3 linked regions of the Homo sapiens genome follow. The protein of the gene in region 2 interacts with the protein of the main gene of each other region in a pairwise test. Each region holds a gene or a part of one and is shown on either strand. Other genes may lie near its edges.

The links. The genes of interacting proteins can lie anywhere in the genome.
Region 1: the proteins of PLCB2 (region 2) and CTNNAL1 interact in binary tests that used the Homo sapiens proteins (3 or more experiments, as listed by UniProt).
Region 3: the proteins of PLCB2 (region 2) and MAP2K3 interact in a two-hybrid assay, tested with the Homo sapiens proteins (one study listed by BioGRID).

Annotation. Positions count from the first base shown.
Region 1 is NC_000009.12:109,003,464-109,010,499, forward strand, and holds part of CTNNAL1 (alpha-catulin), read right to left. Parts: intron 3,344-7,036; exon of another isoform or gene 3,017-3,343; intron 720-3,016; exon of another isoform or gene 633-719; intron 386-632; exon of another isoform or gene 220-385; intron 1-219. UniProt on the Homo sapiens protein: May modulate the Rho pathway signaling by providing a scaffold for the Lbc Rho guanine nucleotide exchange factor (ARHGEF1).
Region 2 is NC_000015.10:40,287,398-40,290,960, forward strand, and holds the end of PLCB2 (1-phosphatidylinositol 4,5-bisphosphate phosphodiesterase beta-2), read right to left. Parts: intron 3,441-3,563; coding exon 3,364-3,440; intron 3,276-3,363; coding exon 3,180-3,275; intron 2,686-3,179; coding exon 2,628-2,685; intron 1,962-2,627; coding exon 1,875-1,961; intron 1,543-1,874; coding exon of another isoform or gene 1,522-1,542; coding exon 1,318-1,521; 3' UTR 512-1,317; downstream 1-511. UniProt on the Homo sapiens protein: The production of the second messenger molecules diacylglycerol (DAG) and inositol 1,4,5-trisphosphate (IP3) is mediated by activated phosphatidylinositol-specific phospholipase C enzymes.
Region 3 is NC_000017.11:21,301,711-21,308,746, reverse strand, and holds part of MAP2K3 (dual specificity mitogen-activated protein kinase kinase 3), read right to left. Parts: intron 6,605-7,036; coding exon 6,488-6,604; intron 5,565-6,487; coding exon 5,513-5,564; intron 4,322-5,512; coding exon 4,194-4,321; intron 3,697-4,193; coding exon 3,619-3,696; intron 1-3,618. UniProt on the Homo sapiens protein: Dual specificity kinase. Is activated by cytokines and environmental stress in vivo. Catalyzes the concomitant phosphorylation of a threonine and a tyrosine residue in the MAP kinase p38.

The DNA of each region.
Region 1 (7,036 bases), on a different chromosome or scaffold from region 2:
GCAAACATGAGCTACAATTCATGTAAAATAATGACTTAGAGGGCAGAATCAAGAGCCATGAACTATTCCCAGGACTTGAGTCTTAATCAAGGAACTGGCAACATTTGCCCAGGAGGAGTTCAGAATACCATAAACCAGTGGCTCCTATTTTTTTTCCATTTTTGAACAGGACTGTATAGCAGTTATTCTATACTTTCTATTTTCTCATTTTTTGAACAGAAGAGTCTATAGTAGTCATCCTAAAGCTGAAAGACGTTACACTTAAGGAACTACTACATACAAGAAGTCTCTCCTGGATCATATTTGTAATAGATGCCAACATCATGGATTTCCAGCTGATGTTGTGACTTTGGAGAGGATATGGATGGGAAGAGGTTACTTGCAGGTGAGAATAAGGTAAACAATTTGTGTGCAGAGGTTAGACTGTAGGTAGTTCTAAAATATGTCCACAAATTATTTGCTATTCCTCCCTTAAATAGGTGAAGTCTCATTCCCCTCTCCTTGAGTACAGGCTGAACTTAGCTACTTATTTCTAACTAATAGAATAAAACAGTAGTGACAGTATGCTACTTTTGAGGGCAAGTCATAAAGTCACTGTGGTTTTCATCTTTCTTTCTCTCGGTTCACCCTAGGGAAAGACAATTCCCATGTCATGAAGACACTTCACCGGCCAAGTGGGAAGGCTCACATCATGAGCCTAAGGAAACTGATGCTCAAAGGTGCTTATTTAAGGTCACACAGCTAATAAGTGCTAGAGTTAGGATTCAGAGTCAGACATTTCAATTCTAGAGACCGTACTCCTAAACATTACCCTATAATGTCGTACAACAATCCAGTGAAATAGGTTAATATTAATCATCCTCATTTCCCCAAATTGGAAAATGGGGGTAATAATCATCCCTATTTTACAAATGAGGAAGTTGGACATCAAGAAGTATGGGAGAGTTAGGATTTAAATCCAGATATTCTGACTGCAGAGACTAGCCTCTTAGCCACTTAGCCATATTGCCTTCTCTGACTTATAATGTTAGTAAGAAGAGTTGGCTGGGCGCAGTGGCTCACACTTGTAATCCCAGCACTTTGGGAGGCCAAGGTGGGCGGATCACGAGGTCAGGAATTTGAGACCAGCTTGGCCAACATGGTGAAATCCCATCTCTACTAGAAGTACAAAAATTAGCCGGGCATGGTGGTGTGCACCTATAATCCCAGCTACTCAGGAGGCTGAGGCAGGAGAATTGCTTGAACCTGGGAGGCAGAGGTTGCAGTGAGCTGAAATCATGGCATTGCACTCCAGCCCGGGTGACAGAGCGAGACTCTGTCTTGAAAAAAATAAATAAATAAATAAATAAATAAGAAGAGTTAATAAAATAATGAAAGCATTATGTTTAACATAGTACCATAAACAGTTTATTGTAAGTGTTCAAAGACATACTATAATTAGCTATCTTACTTAATCCTCAGGTATTATTAAAGATTAAAAAACTGAGGCTGAGTAAAATTGCATACTTGGCTCATACAACTAATAAGTAGCCTAGTTTAGAATTTGAACCCAGGTTTAAACTGACACCAAATCCCACCTAATAGTCCTTCTTTTACTGGAGGTTTACAATCTTTCCTATTTTTTTTAATTGAAATGTTACCTAAAAGCTCATTACATAATCATGTGAAAGAGTCACGATAATTTTAATTTGGAGAATGACTGTGGGCCATGCTGCTGGGAAGCACAGAACAAATCCTACTGGCACCAGCTTAATCCTTTTCCACACCTGACAGACTCTAGGGAATTGTTACTATCACATGAAAAAAAAAAGAGAACTTGCTCAGCATTGACTATTCCAAGCTACCATCTTGGAAGAGACTGCAGTGGAAAGGAGTTTAAGTTCTTGCTATAGATTGAATGTTTGTGTCCCATTCCCCCTCCCACTCCCCCTCCACAAATCCTTATGTTAAAATCCTAACCCCCAATGTGATGGTATTAGGAGGTGGGGCCTTTGGGAGACGATTAGTTCATGGGGGAGGAGCTCTCATGAATGGGATTAATGCCTTTTAAAAGAGGCCTCAGAAAGCTCTCTCACTCATTTCCACCCTGAGAGAACAGTGAGAAGACAGCTGTCCATGAACCAGAATGTGGACCCTCACTGGATACTGAATCTGCCTGAACCCTGATCCTAGACTACCCAGCCTACATAACTGTGAGGCATAAATTTCTGTTGTTTAAGGCACCCAGTCTATTTTTTATAGCAATCCGAACAGATTAAGGTGATTCTGTTTATTAAATATTTCATTTACATAAAGTTTTAAAATTTCAATTACAAAGAAAAGATCCTGCAATTAAGCCAAAATATGAACTATTGTTCCGTTCCAAAAGACACATTTTGCTTTCACTAGAAGCGCCTTCCCCAGTGCATAATTAGGTGTGGCTGCCTTCCTTTCACTGGAAAGCAGTCTAGGAAATGTTCAATCCAAATATAGTATGCCTTTAAAATTTTATTTAGAGGAACTAAGTCAATATGTAACATTCTTTATTTAAGGTCTACTTATATTCTAAAATTAGTTTCAAATGTTTTAAAAGGTAGGTTCAAAAGTTATACATGTTTATTGTTTATAAACAGAAATGGAAAATATAGGAGAGCCTCAAGAAATAAAAATTACCCATAATCCTACTAACCTCTGAGAATTCTGGCATAATTCTTTCCAGTCTTGTTTTGTACATATAGATACTTAAATACACAGTTTTACAAAATTGAGATTAAACTTCACTTTCCTTATCATATAAAAAATAAGACTAGCTAACATTTGTTAAGCACAACAGTACCAGGCACTAGCCTATGTGTTTTACATGTATCAATTCTTTTAATGCTTGCTTCTCCAGCATCTAATAGGTACATACTATTATTACCCTAATTTTACAGATACAAAATCTGAAATTTGAAGAAGTTAAGTATTTGCCCGAGGTCACAAAGCCAGGGGAGCTACCTACACTCTTAATCACTACACCGTCTCTCTTACCTTCCAGGATTATGTTAAGGATCAAGGAAAAGACAACTAGCAAGAGTGCTTTGTAAATCATAATATGCCAAATACAATCTTAACTATAGTTCTGCAAAAATAGGAATGATATTAAATTGAGAGTCATAACTTGGAGTTGCCCTGACACCAGAGTCTAGAGAACACCTAAATGAACCAGAGAAGAGGGCAGAAAAGGCATCCCTTGGGGAAGAAAGAAGATCTGGTGTACTAAAGAACTCTGCTGTGGAATAAAAGAATAAGAATTAGGGTTTACTTGATAGCTTCTAACAAAGGGTGTCAAGAAGTGCAAAACACCAAAGAATATCCCAGCAGTTAAGGGCATGGACATCATTCTGCCTGGTTTTGAATTCTGGCTCTGCCATGTGACCATGTGGCAAGCTATCTGACCTTTCTGTGACTCTGTGTTCTCACCTGTGAAAATGGAAATAATAATTGTACCCATCAGCCAGGCGTGGCAGATCACACCTGTAATCCCAGCACTTTGGGAGGCCAAGGCTGGTGGATCACCTGAGGTCAGGAGTTCAAGACCAGCCTGGCCAACATGGTGAAACTCCATCTCTACAAAAAAACAAACAAACAAAAAATTAGCCGGGCTTGATGTAAGGTGCCTGGGTGCCTGTAATCCCAACTACTTGGGAGGCAGAGGTGGGGGAATTGCTTGAACCCAGGAGGTGGAGGTTGCAGTGAGCCGAGATCCCGCCATTGCACTCCAGCCTGGGTGACAGAGCGAGACTCCATCACAAAAAAGAAAAAAAAGAAAAAAAAACACGCATGTATTCACATACACAAATCAGCAAAGAGCAGAGAGGGCGCCTTATCTACTCTCTTCATCGACAACATAACTGCAACAAGAATCCTGAAAAGCTTCCAGAACAATGCAGAGAGTAATGGGAAAATGAGGTAGGCTACCTTAGAAATTTAAGGGGTCTGTACAAATAGTGAATAAAGGAAATCTATCATAGACAGGAAAAGACTAGTGGGCAGTAGAATAATATTCCACACCAGGGTGGAGTTCTGTGGCAGATATCCTTCTTCCCTTCCTTGGATAAAAGCATTATAAGACTTGGAGTGGGAGTTCTGACAGGAAGAATAAAGTGATTATTAAAGGAGGTGGGGAGGTACTCTACATAAAATATGCTTGGTTCTTAGCCCAGGGCTTTTCAAGAAAATGTCTGAATTATAAAATATAAAACATATGAGTATATATAACATATATGTGTGGAGTTTAAAGAAATGAAAGAAAGACCTGTGCAGCCACCACCAAGCTTAAGAGAACAATGTCAGTATCTCTGACAGCCCATGTACTATCTGGCTACTCCTTGTCCATATCACTCTCTTGTCCCAAAAGAAACCATTGTCCCAATTTTGTGTTCACCACTCCTTTATTATAACTATTGTACATACAGTATACCCTAAATGATATCTGGTTTAGTTTTATCTGGTATTGAACCTTTATTTTTTTTCACTCAACATTATGTTTTTGAGATTCATCCCCATTGATAATTATAGCTGTGGTTTATTCATTTCAGTGACAGAGTATATCATTATATGAACATAGCACAATTTATGTAAACATACTACTGTTAAAAGACATTTGGGAAGTTTCCAGTTTTGGGCCATCAGAAGTAAAAATGCTATCCACATTCCAATCCATCTTTCTTTTTTTTTTTTTTTTTTTTTTTTGAGACAGAGTCTCACTCTGTTACCAGGCTGGAGTGCAGTGGCACAATCTCGGCTCACTGCAACCTCTGACTCCCAGGTTCAAGCAATTCTTCTGCCCCAGCCTCCCAAGTAGCTGGAATTACAGGCATGCACCACCACGCCAGCTAACTTTTGTATTTTTAGTAGAGACGGGGTTGGTCAGGCAGGTCTCAAACTCCCGACCTCAGGTGATCCACCCACCTCAGCCTCCCAAAGTGCTGGGATTACAGGCGTGAGCCACCACGCCCAGCCCCAATCCACTTTTCTAATAGGTGTGTAGGAGTTTCTCTAGGGGTACTGACTTAGGAGTGGAATTGCTGGGCCACAGGTAATGCCCACCTTCAATTATAATAGATTACAACAAACCATTTTCAAAATGGTTGTAACACGGATATTGCTACCATCTCCACGTTCCTCACCAACACTTATTCTCACTGTGGATTTTTTAGCTTGTAGTTCATTGAGTTCTAATGAAGTTGAATATCTTTTCCTATATCTTTTAGCTGTTTCCTCTTCTGTGAAATTATTTTTTGACCAATTTTTAATGGCTAATCTTTTTATTTTTTATTCATTGGAGTATTTTATTTATTCTAGGTACTACAAATCATTTGTTGGTTATTTGTGTTGGAATCATATTCTCCCACTTAATGACTTACGTTTTCCTTTTGATGAACAGAGGTTCTTTTTTTTTTTTTTTTTTTTTTTTTTTTTGAGACAGGGTCTCATTCTGTCACTCTGTCACCCAGGCTGAGTGAAGTGTTGTGATCACAGCTCACAGCAGGCTTAACCTCCCCAGCTCAAGCAATCCTCCCACCTCAGCCTCTAGAGTACCTGGGACCACAGGTGCATGCCATCACACCCGACTAATTTTTTGTATTTTTTGTAGAGACGGGGTTTCACCATGTTGCCCAGGCTGGTCTCAAAATCCTGGACTCAAATGATCTACCTACCTCAGCCTCCCAAAGAGCTGGGACTACAGGTGTGAGCCACTGCGCCTGGCCTAGGTTCTTCATTTTAAAGAAGTCGAATTTATCCATTTTTTTCTTAAGGTTTATACTTGTGGTATACTAACAAATCCTTTCCCAGCATAAGGTAATGAAGATACTGCCCTATTTTTTTTTTTCTAAAAGTGTTGTGAGCTTTTACTTTCATATTGTCTTTAATCCATCTGAAGTTGACTTTTTACTGGTATGAGACAGAGATCCAATTTCATAATTTCTATTTAGATATCCAATTGTCCCAGCTTAATTTTTTTTAAGTTCTTCCTTTCCCCACTGACCAGCAATGCCAATTGTCATTTACCGAGTTTCCATATATGTGTGGATCTGTTCTAGGGTTTTCTATTCTGTATCACAGGTCTATGTTTTTCAACCCTGTTCTGATACCCACATTGTCTTAATTACTATAGTTTTATAATGAGTCTTGAAATCTGGCAGAGCAAGTCCATCCACCTTGTTTCTCTTCTGCCTAATCTTGGCCCTTTGTGCTTTCATATAAACTTCAGAATTACTTTTATCAAGTTCTACTGAAAAATCTTGCTGAAATTTTCATGGAAATTGCATTAAATTGACCAATAGGGATAACTGATATGTCTATAATATGTCAACCTAGGCTTGAACACAGTACTTTTCTCCCATTTATTTAGATCCATGTTGGCTTTTGATAAAATTTTTAAATTTTCTCCATGAAGTTTGACCACTTTTGCTGTGTATACATAGAGATAGAGCTCTTTCTCTTTATATACATAGCAAAAGCAACATATTCTTAGGAAGCTCATATTTTGCTGTTACTGTTAATATAACTGGATTTTTTTAATAATTACTTTTTCTATTTTTTTTTATTATTTTTTAAAGACAGGGTCCTTGTTGGCCAGGCTGGAGCACAGTGGCGTGATCACAGCTAACTGCAGCCCTCAGCTGCTGGGCTCAAGCCATCCTCCCATTTTTTAGCCTCCTGAATAGCTGAGACTAGAGTAGCTGGGATTACAGGCACCAGCCAGTGCGCCTGTGCCTTGTTTGTTATCAATGTAGAAAAATGCAATTGATTTTAGTATCCTACACTCAGTGAACTTGCCAACACTCCTAATTTTTATAATTTACTTGTAGACTGTTTTGAGTTTTCTGCATAGGTTATTATATCACACTGAGACTTTTGGTTTTTCCTTTCCTATATTTATTCCTTTTATTTCTTCTCCTTGTCATATTACACTGGCTAGAATTTCCAGTGCAGTGCTGAGTAGAAGCATAGCAGGCACCCCACTCTGGTTTCTGGCTTTAAAGGAAATGTTTATTTTAAATTTGACTGT
Region 2 (3,563 bases):
CCCCTCTGCCTCCTAAGCCAGTGCCTGTCCCTATTTGGGATTTGGGATCATGTCATCGGTGCAGTGAGTGGCTGCCCACAAGCCCCTCCACAGCAAGTTTTGAGGTCAACCATAGCTGCCATAGGGTCCTGAGCATCCAACCACTCTGTCTTCCTAAAGGGGCCTAGATTGCCTAAAAGTTTGGAACTCCCCCTAAAATAGGGGACATCTTTGCACTCAGCTCTTCTGCTCCAACCCCGAGAGTGGAGACAATGAAGGGCCACATCTGTGTGGGGGCGAAGAGGGGGTGACATAATTTTCCAGTGATTGTGGCATCAGGGCCAGCAGAAGGGGAAATGAATCCTCTTCAAGTCCAGAGGCAGGGCCATTTCACTGGACTCTGGAAAGGACCTCACCCTGGGTTCAGCTCCCAAGAGATTTTTTTTTCCCCAGCCCGTTTCATTTCAGGGGCACTCCACTACCCTGCCCCCATTTTCTACCTGTAGAATAGAGACCAGGCTTAAGCAGGAAACACTGGGACGAGGTTCTTTAATAGGAGTAGGAAAGAGAAAAATAAATAAACCTCATAAATTCAGGAGAGCAAATGATGCTGACCTTGTCAGGCAGGCAGCCTGAGAGGGGTACATGGTAGGAACTGCCTGCCCCCAGGCCTAGGAAGAGGGGTGAGCCAGGGTCAGGGTGGAACAGCACCCAAGAGCCCACTGCCCCTTGTGACTCAGCCAAGCAGGGCCAAGGCAGCTTTTCCATTTCAGCCTCCCGTTCCGGACAGGCAGAGGGGAGGGGAGGGCCCTCAGCCAGGGAGTGGCCGTCCCCAGGGAGCTGTGAGGTAGTGCCAGGATCTGCCTCAAGGAGTGGACAAGGCCAACTCAGGGCAGGCCTGATGGGGCCTGGAAGCCTGGGGCAGGAGGGTTCGGGGCTAGAGTGGAGGTGAGTGGGTCCAACCCTCCAGGTGAGGAAACTGAGCCCAGAGCTGGTTGCTCAATAGGAAAGGCAGAGTGGGGCCAGGATCCCACTTTCTGCCTTCCAGTCCATAGTCTTTTGCCCTCAACAAATATATGACACTTATCTAGAGATGGAGGGGGAGGTAGGAAGTCAGCTTGAGAAGACTTCTAGGCCCCAGAGAGGCCCTGCCGTGAGGGTGCCTGGGTCCTGTCTCAGACTCTGGCCTGGCCGTTGAGGAGGGGGCTGCAGCGTCCAAGGCAGCCACAGGTTCCCACAGCCTCAGAAGGCTGGGGCTCCTTTTTCCTGGGGGAATAGAACCACATCCCAGAGAAGGGGCTGAACCTCCTTGCTAAATGTCCCAGTGGGATGGGGGCATCAGAGGCGGCTCTCCTGGGCATCTGCCTTTGCTATGAGTGGGTCCTGCTCACACAGCTCTGGGGGGCACTCGCAGGCCCTCTCAGGCTTGTCCTTGGCCTCGGAGGGAAAGCAGGTCCTGAGGCAGGCCCTCACCGACTCCTTCACCTCTGCCTCCAGACCCTTCATCCTGGCCTCGTACTCTGCCAGCGCCTCCTTCTGGAACTGTGGAGACAGCAAGGACCCCTGCCTGGCTCAGGAGGGGCCTGCTGGCCACCCTCGCTCCCTGGACAGTGGGAACAGGAGATGCCCAATATCCATGTTCGGAGCTCCCAGGAGACTGGGGTGAGAGGCAGGGTGGGGGAGTGGTAGAGCCCATCAGGAGCCTCTCAGGAAAGGGGATCCTAACCAGGCGGAGATCTGCAGAGCTGCCTCATTTGAAAGGGCCTCGGGACCCCACAGTGAAGGATGATGGCCCCCTTCCCCTACCCTCTCACTGGCAGCTCCCTGGGGCAAGGCCCCTTTACAACCCGGAACCCATTCAGTTCTGCTGGGGGTCCCAGTAGTGAACCTGTTACCTGCTTTTCCATCTCCCGTATCTGTTCCAGGCAAGCCGCCTGCTTCTCCTCCAGCTTCTCCTGGTGCCTCTCCAAGTTCTCCGTCATCTGGGTGGGAGTGGATGGCAGAGAATCAGGACAACACAGACAGGCAAGCTGGGTCAGAATCCAGCTGTAATCCCAGCTAACTAGTTGTAAGACTTTGGGCAAATTCCTTAACATTAGGTAGTTTTTAAAATTTGTAAGATAAGGATAGCAGCACCTGTCTCACTGGACTGTAAAAGATTATACAAGACAGCTCATGTGAGGCACCTGGCAGAGTGCCTGGCACAGGTCAGGACCCAGTAGGTGGCAGCTGTGTTCTGTGGTTAATGATCCCTAGGGGAGCTTCAGGTCCATTATTCCTTGGCACCTCAGGAAGCTTCCTCACTCCCTCTTCATCCCCTGACCCTCGCCAGTCCCAGCCTCCCCTGGCCCTGATATGGGCCAGTTAGCCCATATCATTTCCACACATGAGAACTGGCCAGAGACAGATCCCTTCAGGCTGGTACCCCAACCTCCATACACAGGCCAGAACCCCAGGATGTCCCCTGCCACCCCAGCTGCATGGACAGCGCTAGGCAGTGCATCTCCTAAGGGCAAAGTCAGGGCCTGGGGCCACCCCTTCCTACTTGTGAAGAGAGAGAGAGAGAGAGAGAGAGAGAGAGAGAGAGAGAGAGTGTGTGTGTGTGTGTGTGTGTGTGTGTGTTTAGGAAGGACACAGCCCTTACACACCTGCTTGATCACCTGCACTACTTCCTGGATGTGGGAGTTGTTAATCTCTCTCTTCAACCTGTTGGTGTAATTGGAGTTTTAGAAAAGGGAGAAAACCCCTAGGGAGAGTAGGGTAACATGAAGTCTACGCAGGATGTAGGCAAATGAGAAATCCAACATAGGGCAGGAACCAGCTGGGGGCAGGTGTGGGGACCCAAGGAGTATGTAGGGGCCACTGGGAGTCCTGGGGCCCTCTGAGGGAACCATTTCCCCATCAAAACACACTGTCCTTCCGTGGGAAACAGTGCCACCACAGTGGACAGGCTACAATCCCAAGGCCTCAGCTCCCTCCCTGCAGGCTTGGCTGCCTCCAGAGCTCTGCCCATGTAGTGTTGGCCTCCGTGTTTTGTCTGAGGAGGACACTCTGATCAAAGGTGACAGGGGGGATCCGCTTTTTGGAGAGCCAGGGGACAGATGCATCTTTGGGAAGTGAGTCAGGATCCATTTGTAGAGAGGCCCCTTTCCACCTGAAGTGGGGTCTGCCCAGCCCTGGGCCTCCCCTCCAGGGCTCACCTCTCCTGGGCCATCTTGTCTGTGGTGACTTTGGTCATGCCCTGGATCCGCTCCAGTCTCTTTGTCTCCAGCTTTTTCTTCATCTCTTTGGTGTCGCTGCAGAGAGACAGGCATGAAGGAGCTGTTTTGTGCGGCTGAGCCCTTGCTGGGAGGCGAAGCAGGTGTGGGAGGGAGGCAGTCGTACTTCTCCGACGTCTCCTTCAGGGCCTTCAGCTCTGCCGCCTGTTTCTCTCTGGCCAGCTCCATCATTTTGGAGATTTGCTGCAGGGAGAGGAAGTAAGCTTGGCGAGAAGCCCTTTGTTGTTCAGAGGGAGTACGGGGGGCGGGGGTCGGTGGAGGGGAGTCGGTGAGGGGGTTGGGTCGGTGAGAGGGGCGAATGGGGTC
Region 3 (7,036 bases), on a different chromosome or scaffold from region 2:
ATATCCAACCAGTTCTGTGCAGTCTAAATACAGCAAGAACTTGTCCTTTGCATCAAACTTAGGACTTGGAAAACTGTTATTGCAGATACAGCACCTGCCTTCAGCCTGAATATTCCTCTCCACCTCAAAAAAAAAAAATTTTAATTGAAAAATTACATGTCACCAATTAAAGAAAATTGAAGGTATGGCCCAGTCCCACCTCTCTGACAAAATTATTTCGACTTTGAGTCTTTCCCAGTCACTGTCTACAGATACACTATTTATAAAGTTACAGCCACAGGCCAGGCGCAGTGGCTCAAGGCTGGGCGTGGTGGTTCACGCCTGTAATCCCAACACTTTGGGAGGCTGAGGCAGGTGGATCACCTGAGGTCAGGAGTTTGAGACCAGCCTGGCCAACATGGCAAAACCCCGTCTCTACTAAAAATACAAAAATTAGCCGGGCATGGTGGCAAATGCCTGTAATCCTAGCTACTTGAGAGGCTGAGGCAAGAGAATTGCTTGAACCTGGGAGGCGGAGGTTGCAGTGAACTGAGATTGTGCCATTGCATTCTAGCCTGGTCGACAGAGTGAGACTCCCTCAAAAAAAAAAAAGGCCAGGCACAGTGGCTCACCCCTGTAATCCTAGCACTTTGGGAGGCAGAGGCAGGCAGATCACCTGAGGTCAGGAGTTTGAGACCAGCCTGGCCAACATGGTGAAACCCCGTCTTTTTTAAAAATACAAAAATTTGCCAGGTGTGGTGGCTCACGCCTATAATCCCAGCTACTGGGGAGGCTGAGACAGGAGAATTGCCTGAACGCGAGAGGCAGAGGTTGCAGTGAGCTGAGATCATGCCATTGCACTCCAGGCTAGGCAACAGAGTGCAACTCCGTCTCAAAAAAAAAAAAAAAAAAAAAAAAAAAAGATAGCCGGGCATGGTGGCACGAGCCTGTAATCCCAGTTACTCAGGAGGCTGAGACAGGAGAATCACTTGAACCTAGGAGGCGGAGGTTGCAGTAAGCCGAGATCGTCCCATTGCACTCCAGCCTGGGCAACAGAGTGAGACTCCATCTCAAAAAAATAAAAATTAAAAATAAATAAAGTTATAACCACATGATGATGATAACAATGGTAGCAGCAACACCAGTAAAACCCACAACACCTGCGTCAACTCTCTACCCACCAGACACTTCTCTTCGCTCGCTCCCAACCCTCCCTCCCTCTCCTCTGACCCAGCCACCCAGGCACACAGCAGGCACAGCCCCACCTCAGGGCCTTTGCACTTGCACCCCCTGGTCTACCCTGCCCTCAGGTCAGCAGGGTGCCCTCCTTGCAGAGGCCTCCGCATCTGCAACAGTGGCCTTCCACCTGTCCCCAGAGCCACCCCTACCTGCTCCAGTCTTCTCCACCCCCGTGGCATAAAAAGGAATTTATTTGGTCTTTGTTCCTGGCATGGAGCTCCTAAAACCCTTGGAATTTCCTGAGTGACAGGAGTGGCTTTGTTATCCACAAGGAGCCTGAGTTTATGCTAATGAGGTGACTCAGGGTAAGGCCCCTAGACAGCCTCAGATGGGGCTGCTCCCCAGAAAACCCAGCTGATTATAGAGGGTGGGAACTCTCAGCATCACCCGCCAACTGATGCTGAGAGGAGGGGGGCCTGGAGACTGTGCTCTATAAAAACTTTCAGTGGGTGCAGTAGCTTGTGCCTATAATCCCAGCACTTTGGGAGGCCGAGGTAGGCAGATTGCTTGAGCCCAGGATTTCAAGACCAGCCTGGGCAACATAGTGAGACCCCTTTTCTACAAAACATTAAAAAAGTAGCTGGGCATAGGGGCACACACCTGTAGTTCCAGCTACTCAGGAGACTGAGGTAGGGGGATGGCTTGAGCCTGGGAGTTCAAGGCTGCAGTGAGCTGCGATGATACCACTGCACTCCAGCCTGAGCAACAGAGTGAGACCCTCTCTCACAAAAAACCTCTCCATGTGAGGCTGGGCGTGGTGGCTCATGCCTGTAATCACAGCACTTTGCGAGTCTGAGGCGGGCAGATCACTTGAGGTCAGGAGTTCAAGACCAGCCTCGCCAACATGGCAAAACCCCATCTCCACTAAAAATACAAAAATCAGCTGGGCATGGTGGTGCCTGTAATCCCAGCTACTCGGGAGGCTGAGGCACAAGAATCGCTTGAACCCAGGAGGCAGAGGTTACGGTGAGCTAAGATTGTGCCACTGCATTCCAGCCTGGGTGACAAAGTGAGACTCTGTGTCAAAAACAACAAAATTCCATGAGCTTGAGAAGCCTGTAGGTTCGCAAGCACAGGGAGGTACCAGGAGGGTGCCAGGCCCTGAGAGGGCACGGCAGCTCTGCACCCCACACTCACACCCCTCCCCCGTGAGTCTCTTCCATCTGGTTGGCCCTGAGTTATATCCTTTCTGATAAACCAGTAAACACAAATAAAGTGTTTCCCTGAGTTTTGTGAGCCATTCTAGGAAATTATCAAACCTTACGAGAGGGTCATGGGGACCCCCAATTTGTAGCTGGTCAGTCCAGTAGTATGGGAGACCCGCTACTTCCAACTGGTGTGTGATGTTGGGGGCAGTCTGGTGGGACAGAGCCCTTAACCTGTGGGGTCTGTGCGAACTCCAGGTAGCATCAGAACCGAACGGAACTGCAGGGCACTGGGTGGGTGTCTGGAGAATCCGAGAATGGGTTGCGGTGTTGGAAAACACCCCGCCAGCGCTTCTCACCACATCTTACTGATTCTATCTGACGGCCTCATCCCCAACACCAAACAGTCAAAGGGACTAGGGACAAGCAGGAATGTCCTGGGCCAGGCTTCCCTGGGCAGGGAAGGAGCTGACGCCCAGGACACTCCATTGGTCCCAAGCCACTCAACTGGCCAAGGCCACCAGCCTGAGCCCGACCTGCTGATGGCATCGTCCTTCCACGCGTCTCCTGCACAGCTTCCTAGCCCTGGCTGGGGGACACATCCTGGTGGTCTTCCCATCCCTCCAATCCACTGTCCACAGGGGAGCCAGAGCGGGCTCACCCACACCTTGACCTGAGCCCCAACACGGAAGGCATGGGGTTCTGCCAGGCAACTCCAGAAGCAACTGCTCTGGGCCCATCCCTACACCTGGACTTCGGACTTCTGCCACATCTGCCCTCACCCTACCCAAGCCAGGGATGCCTTTGGCTTCCACAGGCCCAGGATTGAGAGCCCGCCCACCCTTTCTACCACCCCACCGCAATGTACCAGGACGCCACCGACAACAAACCTTCTGCTATGAAATATTTTTGAAAAGATCTTTACCATCTTGCTTTTGCATGATTTACATACCAGGAACTTACGTAATTTGGGATTGGCTGTGATTTCTCAACAAGCACCAAGAACTCCAGAGAAAGCCCTGTGGCCACCATATCACAAAGCACCCAGGACTTCACGATGAGTGACCCTGACCCTAGGAGGTTCCCTTAAATAGATGGTAATTTCTGATGGCACATTTTCTTCTCAGATTTTGAAGCCAATACTTCTTTCCAGAACCTAAACTATTTGATGAGTCCCCCAAAAGCTCAGGGCCCCAGGCACGGCTCCACCCACCCCACCTGACCACCAAGGGCAGGCCCTGGCCCCCCACAGTACCATGGTGATGCCCAGGCTCCAGACGTCGGACTTGACATTGTAGCCCTTCTGGTTCAGCTCTGGGTTGATCCTCTCAGGCTGCAGGAGGGAAGAGTGAGGCGTGAACACCCGCCCCAGGTAAGCCCCCATGGCTAGGCCTTGCCTCCCAATCCCCAAACTGAGCGCTCAGCTTAGCCCACCTGCCCATGTGACGGGGGAGGAAACTGAGGCTAGGAGGGCCTGGGTCATGCTTAGAAGGCCCAACCCTTGCATCGGTCTGACCCTACCCGGGAGCAGGCCCCTAAGGCCCTCCTGACAATGAGGGCGGGGCGGGACCTGCACAGCCCACCAGTGTCCTCCGCAGAGGTGGTCCATGAGCTTATCACCCAACTGGGGCACTGTGGGGGTCAGTTAACAACGGGGTACAGAAGGGCTGCCCCTGGGCAGCAAGACACAGGTGGCCCCACTACAGCAGGAAACGCAGTGTGGGGAGGCTCTGCCCCTACGGACAGAGGGTATGGCCGGGGTGGCCAGCCTGGGCAGATTTCTCCCCGCCCCATCCTCTCCTGAGCCTGGGGGGCTTGGGGACCACTCACGGCCATGTAGGGCTTGCAGCCGGCATCCATCGTCTTGGCCACAGAGTCCACCAAGTAGCCACTGATGCCAAAGTCACACATCTTCACATGGCCCTCCTTGTTGATAAGGACATTGGAGGGCTTCACATCTGCCAGGGAGGGACATGCCTCAGCCACGTCTGTGGAGCACGACTGGAGGCAGGTGCCATGCTCTGCATAGCTGTGCCCCCCTCCCTCGCCCAAGACCCCTCCTGTGCCCCCTCCCATGCCCCAGTGGGCAGGTTGCACCAGGGTCCCAAGGGTCAGACCAGGGAACTGAGGCTGCAAGAGGTGCCGGGCCAGCTGAGAGTCATACTTGGTCCTCAGGGAACAGCCAGGACGTGCCCAGCCCGGCCCGGCCACTGCAAGGAAGGCAGGACTCCAGGTGCTTTGCTGGGAGCACCGTGCCTGCATCCGCCCTCCAGACATGAGGTCCAGTGAGAGCCTGGCTTGTGTGGGTGCTCCCAGAGGGCAGCAGGATCAATTAAAGCCTGGGAGGCAGGATCTGCGTGTTTGGACATGGAGTCCCCACAGACCAGCATGGGAGAGCAGCCCAGCAGGGATTCTCCATACAAATGCGCATAGGACACTCACATCCCCGTGCCCTCCATGGGGATGTGTGTAAAGATGGAAATGCACATAAAAAGGACCAGAAGGTTCCGTGCCAACCGCCAACCACAGTGACCTGGGGGGCTGGGATGGGCACCCAGTGGACAATGGGAACTAAGCCTAATTCATTTTTTGAAAAGCAGTAAATCTGGAAAAATAGACTTGTGCTCAGCAGCAAAAAGGAACAAACTGAGACCACACCAGACCCAGGTGGGTCCAGAAACATCAAGCGAGGCTGATGTTCCAGAAAGGGCGAAACCAACCCACTGTGGGAAAACCAGACTTGTGGGTGCCTTAGGCACATGGGGGATGGCAGGGAAGGAGCCCAAGAGAACATTCTGGGAGGGGGTGAGAGAATTGTCCTGCATCTTGGAGGGAGGTGGTTGCATGGGTGTGAACATGATTATATGCACTCTATGCTGGAGTTTCACGATTTGTAAACTATACATCAGAACAGAACCCAGTCCACCTTTCTCAGGACAGAAGTCAAGCCAGTCCTTGCTTCGAGCACCAGCAAACCTGAGGGGAGGCAGCTGCAGGGCTGCAGGTGGAAAGCGGCTGGAACCCCATCGGGCACGTCACAACCTATCACCTCTCGGAGCCACAGTTGCTCATAGGGAGACGTCCACCCGCCTTGGCCTGGGATCCCTCCCACTGGCTACACCGTGCCTGGGTGGCTGCCGGGCACTGACCTCTGTGGATCACCGACAGCTTGCTGTGCAGATGCTCCAGGGCCCGCACGATCTGGCGGTGGGGTGGGGAGGAGGGAAGAGACAGGACTCTGTTATTCCTGGTCACGTCAAAAACGACAGAGCAGTAAGACCCCATCCATGTCCACCTGTCTCCCGCTCCCGCTGCACAGGCTACGCACCCTCTCATCCCAGCCTCCTGCCCTGTCCTGGCATTTGCCCCAGCATCCTAACAATCCTGGTGCAGACACACTCGGCCTCCTGCCTCCTCTCATCCTCCCGGGCTCACCTCCCAGGGAGGCATCATCACTGCCTGCCACACTCTTCTTGGGTAAAACCCAGCTCTTGGCAGCCTCCCTGTCCCATCTCCCCTCCCGTGGCAGAGCCAGTATTCTAGCAGCTTGGAGCCATTTCCCTTGGGAAGGCTGGGTGGGGAGCCTGAGGCAGGGGTATATTGTAAATGTTTCCAGATGCAGTGAGGATTGAACCAGTCTCACTGGTTCTATTTTCCTTTTTCCTTTGGCTACTGGAATGCTCAAGCCCAGTGTTGCTGCCCTCCCTCAAGGACTTTTTAGACTCAAAAAGCACACATTTTGGATGCTAACCTTTCCCCCAACTTAGCTTGTACCTCTGTGAGCTGCCCCGGGGCATTTTTAGTATGACGCTGTTGTAAATACTAAATTCCTTTTTTAAAAAATGATCTGGAACTCAAGAGTTGGAATCAATGGCTCAGACACCTGGATCTGCCAAATCTGTGGGGCTCCAGGAGCCCCAGGAGCGGAGGTCTCCTAAGCACAAAGGCTCTGGTCTGGGGTGGAGGAGAAGGGCCTATGCAGGGCAGCTGCCCAGGTTCAGGGGGCACATTGATGCCCAGCTCTGCCCAAGACACCATCAATAGGCAGGCTCCATGCCTGCTGGCAGGGCTGGGCCTCTGCCTATGCACCTAGGACCCCCCGCCAGCCCACCCAGGCCACTCACAGACACAGCAATCTCCCCAAGGATGTCCTCTGGAATTGTCATGTTTTTATCCAGCACCTTCCGGTAGAACTTGTCCAAGGATGTGTCCATGAGCTCCATGCAGATCCACACGTCTCCCTGTGGGTGACACCCAGAGCTCAGCCAGGCTGCCGGGCTGCCCGTGTCTGCACCACCTGCACTGCCTGCCCCAGCACCAGCCCCAGCCCCAGCCCCCTCTCCGACGTGTGCCCACCCACTCAGCCACAGTTCACCGGGCTCCCACCCACCACCCACTTGCCCGCTTCCCCCACCCTCCAACTCTGCCTGCACTGCCAGGTTCGGGCGCCAGCCTCCTCTATCTGATCCCTAATTCCAGGTGTCTCCAGGGAGGAAGAGGATTAGCACACAGCCTCGCTGGGTCCCTCCACCAGAGCTTCAGGATGCACCTGCACCAGCTCCATGGCAACAGCCGGCCCTGCTGACCGACAGACACCCTCATGCCAGCTGACCCTGGCAGATGGCTCCCTGCCTGCAAGGACCTGCTCCCTCTTCCCCAGTGAACTCCTGAGG